Linked DNA regions of Homo sapiens: regions 1, 2 and 3 are each linked to region 4. The links come from fine-mapping of genetic effects on gene expression. A gene starts in region 4. Each other region holds a variant in brackets. All regions are shown on one strand. Distances are between the middles of the regions. Region 1 overlaps ZNF697 (zinc finger protein 697). Region 2 has its middle 29 kb from the start of LINC00622. Region 3 has its middle 13 kb from the start of LINC00622. Region 4 holds the start of ZNF697 (zinc finger protein 697).

Region 1 (5,447 bases), 27 kb before region 4:
GGGTCTCTAATTGGTCCTACAGAGTTCTCAACCCTGTTTGCTCATTAAAATCACCTGGGGAGTTTCTATAAAACTACAGGAACTTAGGCCTCACTCCAATTAATTGCTCTCTTCATTTAAAAGGCAAACAATCCAAAAAGCTCTCCAAGGTTAAAAAAATCTGTAGCTTAAACTAATCAAACCTCAAGAATTCCAGGTTGACCAGGTACAGTTTTTCTAATTGGAATGTGGGCAGAGGCCCACTCACGGCAAATTCAGGGTGAAGTAGCACAGATAATATGCAAATGTGCCTGTATGGGTATGACTGTATTCTAATGCAACTTTATGTACAAAAATATGCAGGGCAGATTTAGTAGTTTGTCAACCCTTGTTCTACAAGAACATAGCTTCCATAGATAGAGCTGAGTGACATTTAATGTGTGGCAAAGAAGAATGACATGGTAAAAGACTGATATGGATTTAATGACAAATATTCCATATTGGTTGCTGAACACCAGAATGCTGTCCAAGGAACCATCGTTAAATAAAACAACCTGAAAATAAGGCAAATCTCACGTATACAAGCACACTCACACGAAACCTGTTACTTTTAGGATCATTAAATTATTCACTATTTTAACAAACAGCTGTAAAATAACATTACAGTGAAGAAAAATGTGCACAAACTTCAGAAACACAGTTTAGATTGTCTATGAACACAGGTCCTTAATTTGTATTTTTTCACATATGTACAGTCTCTTGATTGTAAAGAGACCACATGGCTCAAGGGGTTAACTTCTCATTTTCTCCTTCCAACTCGGAGCTCAAGATTTAATCAAAACCATTTAGCCTATTTAAATTGCTCCAGGTTTTGCTTAGTAAAGGGCAGCAGAGGAAGACTGCTCTTCATCAAATTCTCCAGGAAACAAATAATACACTTGCTTCCACCATCATTAATGAGTTGGTGGAAAAAGTCCTCAGATTAACGTTTTCAAGGGTGAACCGCAGTTAGCAGGGTTTGCCGAAGAAATATTATTCTAAAACTAGATAGAAGAAACAAACAACCTCCTGAATGCATTTAACCTCACTTAATGCAGGTAAGTTCCCTGAAGAATTGTAAGAAAAAATGGAATCACATTTTAAATGCACCAATAGAGTCGGGTGTTGGTAGTTGGATTGTTTTCTTCTGCTAAGAATGTGCTCATAGAAGGGATATCAACGTAGCAGCTGACTTTTTTATCCATGGTAATAGAAATAATGAGAGAGGTAAATGAAGTCCAAAGATTCCCACTGCCACTAAACTATTTTACATTAGCTTCACTCTCCACTCCCTGTTGAACCCATTCTCTAAAGTTGCTGATATGTAGTATATTTGATGCAGACGAGACCAGGCATAGCAATGGCAGCAAAAAAGCAAAAAAAAAGCGGATAATCAATCCATGAATAATCAAAAGTTGGATGAGATTTCATAGGCACAGACTTGAGAAAACTTAAAACAGCTGGAAGAGGTAGATGTACATGGAAAGAAACCCACAAAGCAGTAAGATTACCTAGAAATTGGCTATATTATTTTCAGGTGGGTCTAATATGTTTAGTATTCAGATTACAAATCAGAATTCAAAACGGACACTTGTTTGCTTGTATTACTCCTGACTAGAAGAAAATGAGAATTAATGTCTTTCAAAACTGTCTGTAGTTTGAAAACCTATTTGCATTTGTGAATAACAATAAACTGATTAAGAGGGCAAGATCAACAGGCATTATACAAGCCCAGAATTATCAGGATTTTTAAGTGTTTTTATAACCACAAAAACATGCTTTCCTACAGTCCCCAAAGAGGTTCTTTACTAGAATACAACTGATCAAGTATAAATTACTAGCATCCACAGAAACTTTGCTAAAAGTGTAAAAACAATCTCGTAGCTTTTTTTCCCCCTTCCACTGTGTCTGATATTTTGTGAAGATGCTTCCATGAAATGTGTAGGGTAACAATCACTAGAGAAGAAAACAATACTGCTTTCCACAACTCTAACTTCTAAAGGCTAACCTAGCACAGGGATCTTCAGCATAAGTAACTGAAATCTATACAAGAGTCATCTAACTACAGCCCCTTACTAGAAATGGAACATAGCTAGGATACCCTAATTAGGCGACAAAGACCAGCTTTGTCAATAAGGACATGTTTGGCCCTTCTAGGCTAGCCTTAAGTTTTTCATCAAGCATAAGAATTTTCAGTGTCCTTAATTTTATTATATAAATCATGACAAGTAAGTCTTCCTAGCAGCTGAGCTGGAGAATGCAAAAGGTCAGGCTACAATTATTCACACTGTCCTCAGCCTCTCTTCAGGACAGCCTGCACACTCCTGTTCCCAGGCCTTCCCTAAGACAGCGGTCATAATACTGATCTAACTCACAATGATGTGAGAAACAGCTAACAATTATTAAAAAGCATAAAGCACTTTGCAAATATCAAAGTGCTATTTTGGCATCTATATAACAACCAGAAAACATTCATTGTTTGTGCTATTTGGCAATTTTGCATTTACACCTCTCCCTGACTGGGCTCTTCTGGGTAAAGCCTTGAGATTTCTACTGTGCCTCCACGCGCAGGCAAAAGACATTCTTACTTAGACTAGATCCCTCGTCAATATGCATGGAAGTGGGGGTTAGTGGAGGTCACTAACAAATGCAAAGTGAAGGCAAATGAGACCAAGGAGTCT[C/T]GCATCCCAAAAAAGTGAACACTTTCTTGGATTTCTCACATAAAGGCCAGCAAAACTCTGAGCTAGTTGACTTTTTAGCAGGTCACTGGGCAACTGTTGGTCTAAAGTTCACTTGAAACACCTACATCAAGGTGAGGTGGGAAAAGGAAAGTCACACATAGCTGTGATTGTTCCTTTTCCCTGCACTTAAAACACCACAGTTGAGACCTGAAAGAAATACTGGGTGTGGCACACACCTGGGATGGGCGAGGGCGGGGGAGGGGGGTCATCCAGGTAAACCACCTTGACCCAGCATGAAGCTAGAGTATTTTCAAGGAAGTAGCAAAGAACCCGGGACAGAATCAGGATTTCCCACATCAGAGAACCAGTTATAAATGAATTTCTAAACCCCAGACATTGCCCCTTGAAATGAGTGTGGCGTTTTTCAGCCCACTTCCCCTTGGATGCCTCAAAATAGCAGCTAACTGTGGCTCAGAGAAAGGAAAAGTACATTAAATATCCTGTCCTATGTGACTGACAAGGTTCCCCTACTTTTTGTGAGACAACAGGTGATGTGTGGAGATCGGGCAAACTCTTGGTGGGACCAAGATAGAATCACTTATACTTGGTTTTATTTCGCCCCATAACCCTCATTTAAACCCTCTCCCCGCAACCTTCTACAGGCCATCGCGGCCTACCCTAGTCTATTGCCCGCCATCCTGTTCCCACCCCAGCCCACGAACTGCCCTTCCTCAAAGTGCCTGGTCCTCCAAGCTCTTCACCCCCTACAGCGTGTATTTAAGGAAGTCATCACCCCAAGCGCATCTCCTGAACAATTCTTCCGTGGAGAGGAGGCAAGTATAGCACCGGGAAAGACCAACTTACTCAACACTCCTCCCACTTCAGGAAACCCCAAACACCAAAGGCTCCCCAGTCACTCTCAGATTGTCCCTCCCGCCCCTTCCCCACTTCCTTCCCCTGGGTCAGTCCCAGGATATCTACCCCCCACAGGCTCCCCAGACGGCAGCCTCCCGCGGACCCAGCCCCTAACACAGGTGCAGCTTCTGGTGCTGCGCGAGGTGCGTTTTATAGCGGAAGCCTTTGCCGCAGCCCGCACACTTGTGCGGCTTGTTGCCCGTGTGGATGCGGCGGTGGCGGATCAGGTGGGAGCTCTGGATAAAGCTCTTGCCGCACTCGATGCACGTGTAGGGCTTCTCGCCCGTGTGCGTGCGCTGGTGCTGCGTGAGCGTGGAGAAGTCGCTGAAGCGCTTCTCGCACTGGCCACAGCGGAAGGGCTTCTCGCCGGTGTGCACGCGCAGGTGGTTCACCAGGTGCGAGTTACGCCCGAAGCCCTTCCCGCACTCGCGGCACACGTAGGGCCGCTCACCCGAGTGCGTGCGCTTGTGCGTGAAGAGGTGCGAGCTGACGCTGAAGGTCTCGCCGCACTCGGAGCACATGTAGGGCTTCTCGCCCGTGTGCACGCGCTGGTGCTTCACCAAGTCCGAGCGCCAGCTGAAGCGCTTGCCGCACTCGCCACAGCCGTGCGGCTTCTCGCCCGTGTGGATGCGCTGGTGGTTGGCCAGGTGCGAACGGCGCACGAAGCCCTTGCCGCACTCCCCGCAGGCGAAGGGCCGCAGCGCCGCCGCCCCCGCGCCGCTGGCCGCCGCGTGCGCGCGCCGGTGGCTCAACAGATGCGAGCTGAGGCTGAAGGCCTCGCCGCACTCGGGGCACGGGTAGGGCTTCTCGCCCGTGTGCAGGCGCCGGTGCTTGAGCAGGTCGGCGCGCCAGCTGAAGCTCTTGCCGCAGTCGGCGCACAGGTTGGGCCGCTCGCCCGTGTGCAGGCGCAGGTGGTTGGTCAGGTAGGTGTTGCGGCTGAAGCCCTTGCCGCACTCCCCGCAGCGGAAGGGCTTTTCGCGCGGGGGCCGGGCCAGCGGGGGCCCGGCCCCGAAGCCCCCCGCCACACCCACCCCCATCATGCCCACCATCGCGTCGCACTCGCCCGCCAGGCCGAAGGGCTCCAGGCTGGCGGCGGCAGCGGCCTCAGCCAGGCGGTGAATGCGCTGGTGCTGCAGGAAGGCGGCGCCAGGACTGAAGCTCTCCCCGCAGTCGGGGCAGATGGTGGGCGCGTCCATGATGCTGGCCACCAGGCTATCCAGCTCCCCGAGGTCCACGGCCATGGGGTGGTGGAGCCGGTGGAAGCGGCGGTGGGCGGGCTTGTCACCTCGGTGCCGACTCCCCAGGGAGAGATGTCGCCTCCAGGGAAGTACGGGAGGGGCCGGCTGCTCCTCTTCCTCCTCCAGCCGGTTCTCCCCAGCACTCTCGTCGTCGTCCTCCCGGAGGCTCCGGGATATGCTGTCAGACTCAGACAGTCCTGGGAACATCGCCATGTCAGCTACACCGGATTGGTCATCCTCTTCCCCACGGACAGAAACGCCTTCTTCCTCACTCAGCTGCCCCTCTGCAACAGAAAAAGGTGGCAGTGGGGGATTACTATACTTGGCATTCAAAAGATAAGCCCAGAGGAAACCTCAGTAATAAAACTGTGATCCCCTCCCTCAGGCACTCTGGATCCCTGCCCCTCCAAGACCCCCTGAGAGTTTAGCCTCTCTCAACTGGATCCTCCAGGGAAAGGCCTAAAGGAGAGTGCACTCATTGCCCCCTCTGCCCACCAGTTCTTCAGGCAGCCTCCTCGGGCCCAGGCCCCCCTAGCTGGACCCGAGGCACTGCCTAGCAGAGCCATCTGAAGGCCTGACTGCCTGTGTTCAGGAT
Region 2 (5,447 bases), 78 kb before region 4:
AGGTACAGTAGCCTGGGGAGGAGATGAAGCAAGGTGGGGAATTAAGGATCACAAAGAAGGACAGGAAGGGAAAAGAAGTCTCTCCACTGAACACCTGCTATGCTCTGGACCAAGTGTCTTTGCTGATCACTACCAACTGGGGGAGTTCAAAGCTGCTATCTTCAGTTTTTTACATGAGGAAACCAGTGCTACAGATGGCAAGTAACTTGTCCAAGGCCCCCCAGGTAAGTAAGTAAGTAGGAGAATTAGACTTTAAACTCACCCCTGTGTGACTCCAAAGGCTGTGGACACTCTATTGTGGCTCCAGTCAAAAGTCAACTAAACTCCAACTTCAGACTCTTGATATTCAGCCACTCTTTGCCTCTATGGGACAGAATCAAACCTTCCAGGTGCCACCATAGTCATCATTTTAAACCTTGTGTGTAGGCTTATAATAATGAAATGGGAAAAATTCCCTCACCCCCCTCACCAAGCATGCAATGGGGGTGTGGCTTGCTTCTTCAGTGCCTCACTGCTGAAACCTCTATGGGAGCATACAGGCAGGCAGGCTGTGGGACTCCGACACCATGGCAGTGTCTGGGGTGAATTGTACAGCTCCTGAAGCCCCAGTGGGTGTGTGTTACATGGTGCTCTTTTAGTCTTGCTCTTTTAGTTTTGACATCTATAGGCGGCTTGTTTTAACCAGCTAAATTAGACCCTCTACCTTGTTGGAAGGTCAGAGGGCTTTCTGTATCCTGGGTTCTTGCTTTGGTTACCGGAAGAATTGGATCACACCTGGGCTTGGAGAATGAGTACAAGGTTATTTTGAGTGGAGGTAGCTCTCAGCAGCTGGGGGATGCCAGAAGGGGAGGGTTTTCCCCTGGAGTCGGTTGCTCAATGACCCAACTCTTCTCCAACCACCCCAGACAAACTCCACATCATTTTGCCCATGGGTATGTTCCTCCCAAAGTCCAGCTGCCCGTGTATTCCTTTGCTGATGTGTTCCTCTGCTGATGTGTGCCTCCACTGATGTGCCCTTCCTGACATCCAGCCCCTTCTGTCTTCTTCTGCCAATCTGCTCCTCTCAATGTCCAGCAGCTTGTGCATGTGCCTGCTAGGGTATTGGGGGGTTTTATAGGCAGAGAATGGGAGCATGGCAGGCCAGGGTGGTCTTGGGAAATGCAACATTTGGGCAGAAAATGCTTGTCCTCATCTAGGTCCCTGAGGGTGCAGCCCTAGCCAGAAACCACACCCTCCTTCACCCAGCACTTCCCTTCCCCGCTCTCATATCATTTAAAGGGACCACACTCTTCCCTTCCCAGCACTCCCATATCAAGAACATTCAAAGCCCTCCTGCCCACCTCAAAGAAGTTCTCTTGAGAGAACTAGCAAAGCTGGTTCTCAGAGGTCTGTCAGGACAGAATTATCCAGCACATGCTTTCTCACAATATTTTCTTAACAAAAAGAGTTTCCCAGTATGCAGAATATGATCTCTTCAGCTCACCAAAGGGCCTGCTATTACAGAACCATTTCAAACTAGGTGCCCAAAGTGCACCTTCATTCAATCCTCGTCCCTTAAAAGCTTGGTGGTCTTTCCGAATTGCAGCTTCCCAAACTACTTTAAATTCAGACACATTCCCTTAAGGAATCTCGTCATGCAGTCTCACCCTCTGATTCCCAGAGTCCAGTCTCTTCAGCACCATAGCACCCAACCACAGGCCTGGCCCTCCACATTCAGTCTACTCTGATGCCTTTTCTCATGCAACTAATTGCTTTTGAGTCTCCAGTACCAAAAAAAAAAGAGAAGAAAGAAAGAAAGAAAGAAAGAAAGAAAGAAAGAAAGAAAGAAAGAAAGAAAGAAGAAAGAGAAAGAAAGGAAAGAAGGAAGGAAGGAAAGAAGGAAGGAAGGAAGGAAGAAAGAAAGAAAGAAAGAGAGGAAGGAAGGAAACAGAAAGAAAAAAACCTTTCCAGTTTCTACTCGCTCATTTCTTTCAGTACCCCTACAGTGCAAGGAGGGTGTTAAGAGTAACCAGTTTTTCATTTGAATTGTTAACTCTCCGCAGCTCCCAACAACAAGAAATGTGAAATGACAGGGGAAGTGTTAGAGGCATCTGTTTCCTAACCATTATCACTCCAAG[G/A]CTTAGAAAATATTTCACAATGTTGGTCATTTCCCCCTTGAAGGTAAACTACTTCCGCATTTTCTCTGCCACCAGATTAATTGTTGAAAACATGAGGCTGTCTCTCCAGAAACTCAAATTCCACAGAGACTTTAAACAGGGCCAAGAATAAAAAAATAAGAAAAAATAATAATCCTTTGCCTAGGAAATTCCTTCCTTCTTCAAGGGAAGGCACTCCGAACACCTCCATGAGCTTCGCTTCCACACAGCTCAGGGGAGGCGGCAAGGTCCTCCCAGTACAGGTGTTACCAGCAGAGGGCACACTCCTCTCCCCAGTCCTCCACCAGGCTCCACAGGAAACGCCAGGGCAGGGTTTAAAGGAAGGTTTATCACCCCGACTTTACATAACCAGGTAAACAGAGTCACAGCCAGAATTGGAAGCAGCTTTCCCAGGGAATGCACAATCAGGAAAAGAGTGTGGGTTTCCAGCATCTCCCCACAAGCCACTGTTCGCTCAATGACTCCAGGAATGGTCCTGGTGACAAAGTTTTACCAGTCCACTCAAAATGAGAAAAATACCAGCAATTATATGTATATTTAAGAGTACATTTCAGAGTGTATATTGCTTATATACAATTGTGTATGGGTGTGTGTGTGACATAAATTCTTCCAGTGCCCTTTTCTGCCTAAGGACTGGGACTGTCCATATTCTCAGAGTATATCTTCCTGATTTGTTAGTTTTTCAATAATCTGCCATTAATGGTATTGATGTCACATTGTAATTTTTCAACATCATTACTTGACAGAATATAAAGTGATAATTCTAGGTCCTTTGCCAAAATTACAGTATATACACACACACACACAGACACACACATCCATATACCCAAAAGTCTAGAAATTCTTGCTCCCCAGAACCCACATGTCAGTTTCTTTTCATTTTGGTGTTTTTCCTATGGCTGTAGCATGGCCCAGTCTCAGTCAGAGTCACATAAGAATATACCCCGAGTCTGTTATAACCACTGCACTTGGGAATAAATATCTATGCACGTTGTTGGGGCCCCTTAGTTATATTTCCTGACACTGACAGAATGCTTTTCGTAGGTAGGTACCCAGCTTCTGTTGGAGGCCTGTGTCCAAGCTACAGTGCCAATCTTCATCTACACCAGTACCCTAGAGGTAGCCAGGCCCAATTCCTACAAGGAAATCATTCAGAACGGTCATGAAGAAGAGCCTCTGGAAAACACATGGTACGCTCCATACCCACACAGCAAAAAGCTTGCTGAGAAGGCTGTGCTGGCGGCTAATGGGCTGACTCTGAAAAACGGTGGCACCTTGTACACTTGTGCCGTAAGACCAATGTTTATCTATGGGGAAGGAAGCCCAATCCTTTCTGCCGGTATAAATGAGGCCCTAAACAACCATGGAATCCTGTCAAGTTTCAGCAAGTTCTCCAGAGTCAACCCAGTCTATGTTGGCAACATAGCCTGGGCCCACATTCTGGCCTTGAGGGCCCTGCGGGAGCCCAAGAAGGCCCCAAGTGTCCGAGGACAGTTCTACTATATCTCAGATGACACGCCTCACCAAAGCTATGATAACCTTAGTTACACCTTGAGCAAAGAGTTCGGCCTCTGCCTTGATTCCAGTTGGAGCCTGCCTTTATCCCTGACGTACTGGATTGGCTTCCTGCTGGAAATAGTGAGCTTCCTGCCGAGGCCAGTTTACACCTGTCGACCGCCCTTCAACCACCACAGAGTGACATTGTCAAATAGCGTGTTCACCTTCTCTTACAAGAAGGCTCAGCAAGATCTGGCATATAAGTCACTTTACAGCTGGGAGGAAGCCAAGCAGAAAACCATGGAGTGGGTTGGTTCCCTTGTGGACTGGCACAAGGAGACCCTGAAGTCCAAGACTCAGTGATCGAAGGATGACAGAGATGTGCATGTGGGTATTGTTAGGAGATGTCGTCAAGCTCCATCCTCCTGGCTTCATACAGGTGACAAGGGCAAAAGTCCAGGTCCTGCTGCCTCCCTTTCACATAATAGCCAACTTATTGTCTTCCTCATGTCATCAAAACCTGCCCAGTCCCTGGCCCAACCAGAAGCTTTTTGTCCTAATCATATACCAGAGGAAAGACAATGTGATTTGCTTTTTCCATATCTCAGTGGCTGATTCCGAACAATTGTAGTCTCTTCTAACTTGAGGTCATTTTTAACTACTAGAGCTCCATTTCTACTCTTAAATGAGAAAGGATTTCTTTTCTTTTAAATCTCCTATTTCTTCACGCAGTCCAATGTAAAGAGCAATAAATGTTTTAATCCTTAACCTGGAGGGAGGTGTAGTTTCTGTTAATACCTAGTTCCCTCCTTTTCTTTTCATTTCCAGGTATCACCATCTTTTACCTAGGAGAGTAGCATGGAGCTGGGGAAGGGGGGTTGGCAGAGTAGTGGGAGGATCTGGAAGGGCGATGAAGACTGAATAAGCTCTACTATGTTTCAGGCATCTACAACATGACCTACATGTGACATATATTCCCTCACTCAATACTTATCAGAAACCTATCACGTGGGGGTGACTATTCCCATTTTACCCTTAAGGAAACTTGTTCACCATCACACTAATGATTAGTGGCTAGGCCTGCTACCAGGAAGTTGGTCTTGAAAGACTTTATCTTTCCCTAGAATCATGCAGCCTGAACTGGTCTTATCAGTGGTACAGCAGAGCACTGGAGCATGGGATGCTGATACTTGGGAGAGCCCCAGCTTTTTGGGGTTACCTCTTTCTTGCCCAATCTGGTACAGGGGAATCTCTAGAACCAAGGATAATCCCTGAGGGGCATCTGAAAGGGTTTGCATGCCTTTCCTAATGGGCCTGAGCAGGGCAGAGAGAAACAAAAATGCATCAGGCCTCCACCCGCTTCAGTGTCAATTTATTTGAAGGTCTCTAGAACACTCCTGGCTATATGTGTGTTGGCCATTCTGATCATACATAACCCTGCATTTCACCCTTTCAAATCACACAATGAGCCACACCATGGGTTCCTGGACAAGTACAAAAAACAAGTGTGAACTTCCTCCAAAATATACCTTCTACTCAGCCCAAAATTAGAAGTCTACTATCCCACATCCCCAGATTTAACTGTCTCTCTCTTCTTTCTCCTTCTCTTCTCTAAATCATATCCTTTCTTCCTTTATTCTTCCATATCCTTAGCCTCTTTCTTCTCTCCATCTCCTCTTTAATCACTGGTTCTCTCATTCTTCTCAATTTCCCTGAAGAGAGGAGGCCAATCAAGACAAGTTTGGGGACTTCAGTGATGACATAGTCATTAACCAATCAATGAAAACACACTCA
Region 3 (5,447 bases), 62 kb before region 4:
AGAGGGTGCCCAGCTCTCCTGCCAGCACATCCTTCCCAGCTCCTTATTCACCATCCAAAGCATCTCTTTTATAGCCTCTGTGCTTTGTGCATATCTAGTTGCACTGCCATTAATTTTTTATTTATATATCCTGTCCCCCACCCCTACACTGCCATGTCCTGAGGACAGTAACTCACCATGTCATCTCTCTGTCCCCAGTGACTGACACAAAATAGACACATGGGCTGATGGAGAGATAGATGGATGCACGGATAGAAAGATGAAACACCAACAAACTCAAATGTTAGGACGGAGAGAGGAGGGGATGGGGAGTCAGGGAGCACAATGCTTTCAATGACAAAGCAAGAGAGAATTCAAAGACAAATTTTCAGGGTGTCAATGAACCTGAAGAAGCTCGATCATCATGATGAGAGCTGGAAAAGAGATAAGCCACATAGTGGGTATGGTGCTGAGAATGAACTCATTTGTGTGATAGAAAGAGAGAGTGGGGTTGTGAGAGGCCCATGAGCAGGGAAAGGGAAAGGCTGTTGAAGGCGAAGCCCAGCTGCCAAGGTTATAAAGGGACTGGGAATTGGATCCAAAACCTGAAATGGTGCAAGGCCCAGAGCATTTTTATACTACAAAAAAAAGGAAAAACTGCTTTTGAAAAATGAATTCAGAAGAGAATCTCCCACTCTTAGTTGACTCAAGTGAGGACCACGCAACCTCTCTGTCTACATGTGCTTCTTAAGACATCAGGGGACTCTGGTGGAAAATTGAGGGGCGTTCTTTTTCTTTATCTTGGCCCAAGATCCCACCCAATGGTAATGAGCAGGGAATGGAGTCGGTGATCTGAGGCATGAAAGAGGTTCATTATGAGGAAGTGGAGAGGGAAGGCTGGATGAAAAGAAAGTGGCTTAGCCACTCTGTCCCCAAAGGCAGGGAGCACTGAGGTCAGTTGCAGACTCCAAAACAGTCAGTAATCTGTTCTGGAAACCTGAAGTTCCTTATTGAAGAGCGCAATCTTTCCTCAAGAAATGGAAGAACCAGCACTGATGCAGTCAGCCCTTCTTCCAAAACAGGTACTGGCGACAGAGAGGTGGGCGTGATATGGGTTCCGGGCCTATTGTCATCTTAGCATGAACGCTGGCCACTAAAGTAGGAATACCCTTCTCATGAGCCTGGCACTAACTCCCTCCTGCACTAGCTGGAGTCTGTCAAATCCCTGGTGTAGCTCTGAGCAGAGCAGCTCTCTGGGCACAAGGCCGGTGAGGTCACCCAGGGCCTGTGCTTGGCTTAAGGGGCTGCCATGGGACCCCACATTTCATTTTGCACTGATCCCTGTAAAATACACAGGCAGTCCTGACTGAGAGAACTTCTTTCAGCAGCAGGCAAAACACCTATTGCTGACCTAGCATGGTTAAATAGAAAAGGCTTCCTGACTCCTACAGGACAGATCAATGTCTTTGTGGAGTTCAGATTTTAGAGCAAAGAAAGTTTCATCAGGCATGGTAGGGCACACCTGTATTCCCAGCTACTGGGAGGCTGAGGGGAAAGATCACTTGAATCCAGGAATTCAACATCAGACAAGACTTCATCTCTAAAATTTTTATTAAATTGAAGTTAAAGAGGGATCTAGAGACCATTACTCCAGCTTTTAACTGTGGGTTCCTTTCCTGCTTTCATTTTACTGATGAGAAAACTGAGGCCTGGGAAGTGAGATGACCTTTCCAACGTTCACTTAGACAACTGTCTGTAATGGTGACCAATGATTTGCTACCTTTGAGGTAAAATATTTATTAAGGGAAAAAAAACTGGGATGAGAGACATTTGGAAACAGGGCAGAGGGTAGGTTTAATGAGAAGTCTGCTGTCTAAACCATCTATCTTGCCTATATAACCCAACCTCTCATCTGAACATCAGCTTGTGGACGTGGATGTTGCATAAATGGAGACAGGCAGGTGCTTCATGGTAAAGAAATGAAAGTAGTTGGGGGTGAGAGGGACTAAGGAAAGGGGTCAAGGAGGGCAAAAAACAAGCGAGTATTCTTTTGTTTTAGAAGAAGAATATTTTTGCAAATAAGAGTGAAGAGTGAAAATCCTGGGTTCTGATTTCAATTTTGTCATCGAAGTTAAGCAAATCTCTTCACCTTCCTGGGTCTGTTTTCTTTCCTACAAAATGAAGGTTATGGCTCATTTCTAAGGTCTTTTGCCAGTGACATTGGGCTGCAAAAGTGTAAGATGATTTGCATCCTCTGGCACCTGCACACTTCTGCCACTAAACTTCGTAATAACATAAGCCTCCTTGTGCTTATTTGTTTGTGTGAAGCCAAAGCTATTTGAGAAAGTGGTTTCCCAGTCATTCGTGGCTCTAGTGGCACATGGCACCTCACTGGAAAAGGGGCGTCATACCTCTCATAGGGTTGTAAAGGATCAAGAAGTGGGCCAAGTAGGAACCGATTCCCTCCTTCCCTGATATCTGATGACCACTGAACTGCAGAACTTAATGCTGACTTAAATACAGCCTTTTGTTTTGGCATTAAGCTATAGATGTTTCCCAAGAAGGTTTTAAAACTCTTAGACAATCACTAGAAATTAAAATGGGCAGGACCAATAGAGTCAGTGCCTACTGAAAAGGAATCAGAAACCCAGAAAAGTCATGCCTTGCTCAAGTCCACTGCCAGTTAATGCCAAAGCTCTGCCCTGCTCACTCCACACACAGCACACCCTCAAAGGAGGAGCAGAACTAGTTCCTTCTTTCTTCCTGTTCTCAGGAAAGGGAGGCCATGCCTTCTCACTTCCTCTTCACCCTGCCCTAGGAGCTGGAAATCCCAGA[G/A]GACAGAGTCCATATGCACTGCAACTGCCTCTCTCCTCCTTCTGGGATCCCAGGAGCTATGATACAAGACTTTAGGATGCCCCTCAGCAGCCCCTTCTCTGCAGCACTGAGCACGACCACCTTGTAACCACCTTGCTTCCTAACATTCACACAAGCCCGTGAATCTTACAAGAGCCTTCATGTTTGTCATTTTGTTTGATTTGATTTTCCCACACCTCATACCTGCATCTTTCCACTGCACAGATGAGAGCAAGATCAAGAATACCTATAGGGCTTGGTCTAGGCTGCAGCAGCATTGAACAGTGGCTGTATCAGTCCAGTGAATCTCAGGCTGTGAAGTCATGTCTGTGATTTCTACCTACTCTATTAACTTCAACACAGAAAGCAGTAGAGCTGCTTCAGGTGAAACCTTGAGGTGACCCTCATTTCAGACATTCACTAATGCTACCCCTAACAAGAGAAATGTCTAGCCAGATACTTTTCCAGCCCCTTGACAAAGTGAATTAGCTTTTCCAAGGTCACACACTGTCCCTTCCCTCACCCAACAAAGCCAGGTACAGTCGACATTGCCTGATTTGCAGCAGTGGTGGAAACTCTGACTTATAGTTGCAAAGTCCTTGGCAGAGAATCTGCTTAACTCTGAGCCTTTGTTGAATGTACCGTCTTGCCCTAGCATAACATGTGAAGCCTTGACATGAAGTTCCCCCCTGTCCACCTCCCATCCCTTGCAGCCCCAGGGGCCAAATCCTTAAAGTCATACATACAGTTGGCAAAATAATTCACCCCAAGCAGGTTGGACAGGCAGGAAACAAAATCAGCCTTCACCTTCGCCCTTAAATGGTGTTGGAATGTGTAAGCATCTCTACCTCTCTCATATCTGTCTCCCCAGCATTGAGCACTATGCCTGGAACATGCCACTCAGCTGAGGGGTGAACTTCTCAGGGTCTCTGCTCTTAATGAGTCACAGCCTTGGGGTCTGGGGAAGGCCAGTCATACACAGATGGTATCAGAACACCCAGGCAGAACCACTCCCTACTTCAGCCCTTGATGCTTTCAGAAAAGCATCTCAGTGGAGTGTCTTCAGTGAATAAAAAGAATGCATGGAACTGCTTCCAGTGATTCCCTAGTCTCTAGAAACAGGGGCCTGTCAATTCTTTCACTTGTGTTGAACATCTTCAACACATCTGGAATGCCAGCTTGAACACCGCACAAACACTGATACCTTTTTCAAACTTCTTAAACAGAGGGAAACATGGTATATGGAACAACTTGCCACCCACCTCACTGGCTTCCAAAGCTAAGCAATCCCGGCTGCCGGATTGAGGTAGGGCACCCACTGGATGCAGAGAGCACTGAGAAAATGGCCTGGATCTCATGGCAGCAGCTGGAAATTGAAACCCATTGGAATGTGCTTTGGGTTAGTGAACATGACCTTGAAACCACAGTCTGGCAGCAGAAAACTGCAGGGCACTTGTGGCTGTGACAATGAGACCGAGGAGCAAAGACTAGACAATTCATGCTGGAGACTGGCCAAGTATGCTCCTCCCCTCCCACCAGGGGCAGAGAGGATGGAAATTATGTGATTGCCAAGGGCAGCTGAGAAAACAAGTCATGCCTGGGGTTTTGCTTTGTTAAGAGAGCTGAGTTGGGGGAATAAAGATCTGAGAGAAGCAGAAGAAGGCTGACTCTGAGTGGTGAAGACGGTGAAGGCCAGCAGCAGCCTTCCACACCTATTCCATTGTCATCTGATGGACAGCCAAGACAGGCACTTTTCCTGGCTCTTACTTATGATATTGTCTTCACTATTTGGAGCAGTTGTGTGAAAGGTGGCCTACCAGGAGCAGACAAAGCCTGATGTACCTTGCACTGCCCTTTGCCTCCATAATTCTGGTGAAGGAGAGGATTTGAGCCTTATGTATTATACTTACTGTAATCCCCAAGAAAGAAAGGGGGTCCCTAATTGGTCCTAAAGAGTTCTCACCCTCTTTGCCCATTAAAATCACCCAGGGAGTTTCTACAAAATTACAGGTACTTAGGCCTCATTTCAAGTAAGTGCTCTCTACATTTAAAAGACAAACAGAAAAGCTCTCCAAGGTTAAGAAAATCTATTGCTTAAACTAATCAAACCTCAAAAATTCCATGGCAATCAGGTACAGTTTCTTTAATTGGAATGTGGGCAGAGGCTCACTCACATCAAAGATAGAGATAGTTGAGCATGAAGGTTCACGACTATAGTCTCAGCACTCTGGGTGGCCGAGCAGGAGGATCACTGGAGCCTAGGATTTGAAGACCACCCTGGGCAACATAGGGAGACCCCATCTCTACAGAATTAAAAATTTGTTAAAAGTCTAGCCAGGCATGGTGGTGCATACCTGTGGTCCTAGACACTCCCGAGACTGAGGTAGGAGAATCTCTTGGGCTGGGAAGTTGAAGATCGCACCACTGCACAACAGTACTCTGGGTAACAGAGCAAGACCCTGCCTCATAAAAACAAACAAAAAAAGAAGGTTAGAGAAAAAAAAGTCTCTCTCTAAATGAATAGCTTCAGCATTGGCTTTTCCAATGTCTCTCTTGCTGCTTACCAAACTGTGTTCTCCATATAACAGCCTGAGAGATTTTTTAAAGTAAACTCA
Region 4 (5,447 bases):
TCACGGAGGTAGAAGAATGTCTGTTGCATCTTCAAGGACTGGGGAGCTATTTGCTCGAAGGATGGGTAGGTAAATTGGGGTGGCACAGGTCCAGTAAAGGAGAGGGGTAGGTAGGCACTGAATTGTGAAGAATTTTAAATCCCAAAGTAAGGAGTTACTTTTGTTGATTATATTAACTCTACATAGTGTGTGGTACTGAGAAACCTGTTAAGGGGCAGGTGAAAGAAAAGAAAAAAGAAGTAGAATCTTAGATACAAAGAAAAGCCCATATGGTACTGACATAGGTTCAAGCTCCAGACCTCTTACTGACACTGTAGCTATTTTTTTCTTTCTACATAAGCAGACAAGCTCCTTCTTGCCTTAGTTTATCATCCTTACAACCAACCTTTACCCTTTCTCCTTCCCTTCACAGGACACTAGTAATTAGGCAAAAAATGTAGATTCTGAGGAAATTCAAAGAGTTTTGGTGGGGGAGGGAGAGGAAATGTGATGCAACTCCATGAGCCTTAGTCATGCTGCTGATGTGAGGTCACTATTTACCACTTCAATCCAGCCGCATCAATCCAGCCGGTTCTTCTGTCTGACTAGCATCCATTTACCCCTCTATCCCAGTAGTTCTGAAAAGCCATCTATGTGTTCCTTTGTGTAATGTAAAGGGCAGCCTGACTTCATATTTATGATCTTGTTCAATAGGATGCCATCTTATTCTCTGTTGGGCATGGCTGAACTTTTGACATCAACTTTCCCTTAACAACAACCCCCACTTCCAACACACACACACACACACACACACACACACACACACACACACGGCCAATATGTTCTAACTAGAAATCATCTAAATTCACAGAGCCTCTTCCCTTCACTTCATTATCCTCATGGCCTCATCCTAAACAACTCGGTTTTTTTTCTCGATTCCATTCTTTATCTCAGTTCAAATGCCTCATCTCTCCCAAAGAAGCTAAGGAAGAAATGTTTTGTTTCACCTCGAAAGCCATTTATATCAGGCTCAGGGCTCTCTCCATGTCCTACAGCATCATTCTTTCGACCATGAGCCTTGCATACTCCTGCCTGGCCATATAAGTGGCATTCTTAAAGGTTCATTTGGTTCCTCAAACGTATTCCACATTAAATAATATCCACATGTTGGCTTGTTGAGAGAAGAAGGTAAACAGTTGGGGGCATCAACAAAAAATCAGGTGAGGGGAGAAAGGAGAGATAGTGAGTGTGGCCCCTTAGGCATGCTGAGTTCAGTTACAACAGTCACACTTGGACTGTATTCAAAGTTGCCCACTCATCCACCACAGCTACTCAAAGACATTTAACTCGCTAGCCATTATCCAACCGCATTTACCAGACGCTCAGTCTTGAGGGAGGAGGGTAACGCAGTAGGGGATGCGGAGTATTGGTGTCATCCTACAGGTTAAGGACAAACATGCCCACTACAAGGACAGGGATACATCACCAACTTCAATTCAGCCCAGGGTTCATGTAGTAAGGGGTGGGTGATTCACTCCTGTGGGGGAGGCAGGGCGGGGGCGGTTGGGGGAGGCGGTTAGGAAAAAGGAAAATCGTGGAAAGTCCCAGAGGAAGTGGTAGTCAGTTCCCGATGCATGGCCATAATGTACATTGGCCATAAGGTACACTCAGCGCCTCTGTGTCGCTGCTCCCCCTCAACCTTTTACTCACCCACTCCTCCCAACACGCGCCTCACCCGTGCCTCCATGCACAATCCTGAGCCTCGGCATCCCCGCGAGGTGCAGGTTCCAGCTTTGCCCACCACCCCACCACCTACCTACATGGACACGTGTGGTTGGAATGCCTCCCGGGGCTAGACGGCCACCCCTCTTGGGCTGCGAGCTGCTGCCCATCTCTCCACCCACCCGTCCTTATTGTGTCATTTGCCCGGTCTGATGGCAGCCCCAAAGCCGCTCATTTGAGTGGGCTAGAATGGAGAAGAGAGGAAAAGGGAGGCACACATTTCATTCACTAGGACCCAAGATGACCTGCCGCCTCTCTCCTGCCCTTCTCGGAGCCCCCCACCCTCCCTTAGCCCCAGTGGGGCTGGAGGCACGAACAGACAAGGCAAGGGGAGCGCAGTCCGTCAAGGTCCACAGCTGCACACAAAGCCCTTCACCTTCTCCTTGCCTTCCAAGCTCCTCCCTGGGCTTGGTTTCTCCGAGGGTCTCTGATGCCCCCTTCGGTGGTCGGCGGGACGGTCCTATTCCCTCTTGCATCGCTGTCTCCTCCCTCAAGTCTCAGCCTCCTCCTCCCCGCCCCTCGCCACATACCCCTGAGGGAGCTCAGTCCTGGCTTTGGGGGCGCGAGAGCACCCCATAAGCCCGGGGCCCTGCGCCCCAGGGGAGCGGACAACGGTCCACTTTACGAGGCACAACTTCGCCCAGCCGTTCCGCCACCGCACTCGAACACACACCCCATCCCCGCAGCGGTCGGGTCTGGTCCCGATCAGCCCCATCCCCGGGAGGCGGTTGAGCCCAGCCACAGCCACGCTCCTACCTGCGAGGCGGCTGGCGCGGCGAGGAGCTAGGGCACCGAGCGCCCCGGCCCGAGCCCCGCACCGCAGCGCGTCTGCCCTTGTGCGGCGGCGGCGGCTGCAGCGGCCGCTGGGTGGCCCGCTGGCTGGCTGGTTGGCTGGCTGGCTGGCTGGCTGGCTGGCTGGCTCGCTGGCTGGCTGCCCGGCTGACTCCTCACTGGGGCTTCCTGTAGGGCTGGACAAAGGACATTTCCTGGGAGGAGCGGGAGAATGTTCCCAGCATGCCTCGATTTGTAGTTCCCGGGGACTTCCTGCCACCGCAGCAGCGGGCGCCCTGGAGGTAGCTCGGGCCAGGCTAGGACTCCGGGACAGGAGGAAAGGCGCTCGCTGCTTCTCTAAGCGCTGTGGGGAAGGGAGCGGCCGGCGGGTCTTGCCCCACGCCCCGCCCCGCGGCGCTCAAGGAGCCCGCTGTCCCGGAGCACGCGAGATCCCAGCGCTGCACTCCGAGCTCGCGGCACCGGTTGCGGGCAGCCGGTGGGACGCTGCCGCTGAGCTGTCCCATGGTTCGGGAGGGCTCTGCGGTGGGAGAGGCCTTTTCTTTAAAAACTGGGAAGTTTGTGGTGGGTTCGCTTTTTAAAAATTAATCTAAAAACACAAAATCTATCTTTTAAAATAGATTTTCTTTTTGTCTTTTACGCCGTTGACATCCTGCTGGGGGCCGATTAAAGAACTTGATTGCTCACCAGGAATTCAGGTTCCTTAAGATCTTGGCGCTTCATCTTTAAAACCATACAGAGCTGATTGTTTCCAGATCCCGACCCGGTGACATTCCTCCCTCATTGTTGACCTTGTCCCAAACATCTTTTCAAGAAAAGCAATTAAATTGAGATTGAAAATAAATTACGTAAATTAAATATTAGACGTGAAAACCTGTGTGCTGCTGAATTAGGAAAGTGCTGGACTTTCTGCGTATCTTTCCTTCATTAACCTTTAGGATTCAGCTTCTTGGTCCCATAAAACAGATGTGCTGGCCACTGTATATTGAGTGTGTGTATTTCGGGAGTGGAAGGGTGAGGAGAAGAGGACATTGGCTACAAGAGAGGAACTCTACTTCCAGCCTAGCAAGAGTCTATGATGCCCTGCACATGTTTTTGTCTATTTCTGGGACCACAGACTCAGGACCCTTAGAAAATCAAGGAAGGACCACATAGAGACTAAATGACTAAAAGCTATATTCTCTCCTGGAGCATGAGCAGAAAGTAATAAACTGAACTAGGAAAGGACAAGTTCTAGGATGCTCTAGAATGTGTTTGAAAAGTAATCAGATAGAAAAGTCTCTGGGAGGCCGGGCGCGGTGGCTCACGCCTGTAATCCCAGCACTTTGGGAGGCCGAGGCGGGCGTACTACGAGGTCAGGAGATGGAGACCATCCTGGCTAATACGGTGAAACCCCGTCTCTACTAAAAAAAAAAACACCAAAAATTAGCCGGGCGTGGTGGCGGGCACCTGTAGTCCCAGCTACTCGGGAGGCTGAGGCAGGAGACTGGAATGAACCTGGGAGGCAGACCTTGCAGTGAGCTGAGATCATGTCAGTGCACTCCAGCCTGGGCAACAAAGTGAGACTCCGTCTCAAAAAAAAAAAAGAAAGAAAGAAAGAAAAGTCTCTGGGCTTGGTGGCTCATGCCTGTAATCACAGCACTTTGGGAGGCCGAAGTGGGAGGGTCACTTGAGCCCAGGAGTTCAAGACCAGCCTGGGCAACACAGTGAGACCCTGTTTCTACGAAAAGTAAAATAAAATAAATAGCGGGTGTGGTGGCGCGTACCTGTAGTCCCAGCTACTCGGTCGTTTAAGTGGAAGGGTCGTTTGAGACTGGGAGTTTGAGGCTGCAGTGAACCGTGATTGCACTCCAGCCTGGGTGACAGATTGAGACTCTGTTTCAAAAAATAAGGTCATAATTACGTGTCACTTCCACTTGTCATTTCACATTTTAAATCCATATGATTAAAACATTTGGGTGAAGGGTTTAGCTTACATTTAAGTAAAGTTTATGCTAGAGTTCTCTTTCTCTAGAGATCCTTAACCTCACGGATAAGATGGCCTGGATTAAAATGTAGAATTGATGAGAAGCATGCAGATAGGACTGTTCACCTCCCAAAAGTTCCTGTTGTATGCCCACCCTAAAGGTCCTGCTGTATGCCCACTCTGTTGACTGTCCACCTAAATTAATTGTGCTGTGATCCTTGCATTTTCTGGACCCTACAAATTACTGCTCCTTCATATTCTCAACCTGGTAACATTCCAGTGAAACTAATCTCCCCATCTCCACCCCAAAGAATTGATTATTGTTTTGCAAATCAAGTAGCCTCTAATAGTGTTCAGTCTGAAAAACATGATATACTTGCTTGTAGCATTTAACATATAACATTGCCCATTGAAACTATTTTTTGCCTTGCTTTTAATACAACACACTCTCCTCCTTCTCCTACACTTCTAACTTGAGCTCAGAATAATTGAACTTTCACTCATTATTTCACGCCATTCCAAACCTGTCCCATCCTTTTGTTTCCAATCTCAGTTATTTTGTTACTTCAACAAAGTTTTGTTTAACATTTATTCATGCTAGTCTCCATGTCTGGAGTAGACATGTAACATTCAACAGTAAGATATTTTACTGAGTAACTACCAGCTATGTCTTACCCCCAAGAAGCCCACACTCCAGTTGAAAAGACAGATGTCACAAAATTACTTCACAGTGTTTAAGGGCTATAATGCTGCCTTATACTGGGGTTCGTGTTCTGTAAAAGTGGGGCTCTTTCCATAAGCCTTCTGTTCCAGTGAGTGGCAGGAGTGGACAGGAGTGGCCAGAGGAAGGCTTGGGAGGGAGGAAATACAGACGGTAAAGAAGACATGTAGTATGTGAAATTTGGTTCTGAACAGGGTGGTAGCTGAGAAG

What was found.
Region 1: its variant is fine-mapped to the expression of ZNF697 in cerebellar hemisphere (GTEx, PIP above 0.99).
Region 2: its variant is fine-mapped to the expression of ZNF697 in whole blood (INTERVAL, PIP above 0.99). The same link has a PIP of 0.9 or more in neutrophils.
Region 3: its variant is fine-mapped to the expression of ZNF697 in whole blood (TOPMed, PIP 0.98).

Annotation. Positions count from the first base shown.
Region 1 is chr1:119,618,981-119,624,427 of GRCh38, forward strand. ZNF697 (zinc finger protein 697) reads right to left here. Exons shown (of 3, transcript NM_001080470.2): 3 at 397-5,136. The coding sequence ends at 3,725. Among named protein-coding and RNA genes, the nearest start is that of LINC00622, 22 kb to the left of the region's middle. The variant C/T (reference allele first, on the strand shown) is at 2,700.
Region 2 is chr1:119,568,052-119,573,498 of GRCh38, forward strand. It overlaps the pseudogene HSD3BP4. Among named protein-coding and RNA genes, the nearest start is that of LINC00622, 29 kb to the right of the region's middle. The variant G/A (reference allele first, on the strand shown) is at 2,118.
Region 3 is chr1:119,583,227-119,588,673 of GRCh38, forward strand. No RefSeq gene overlaps it. Among named protein-coding and RNA genes, the nearest start is that of LINC00622, 13 kb to the right of the region's middle. The variant G/A (reference allele first, on the strand shown) is at 2,815.
Region 4 is chr1:119,645,554-119,651,000 of GRCh38, forward strand. It overlaps ZNF697 (zinc finger protein 697), which reads right to left and starts at 2,713. Exons shown (of 3, transcript NM_001080470.2): 1 at 2,138-2,713. LOC124904389 (a long non-coding RNA gene) reads left to right here and starts at 2,763. Exons shown (of 2, transcript XR_007066506.1): 1 at 2,763-2,834; 2 at 3,171-3,423. RefSeq lists silencers at 2,130-2,293, 2,591-2,650 and enhancers at 2,709-3,549, 2,721-2,790.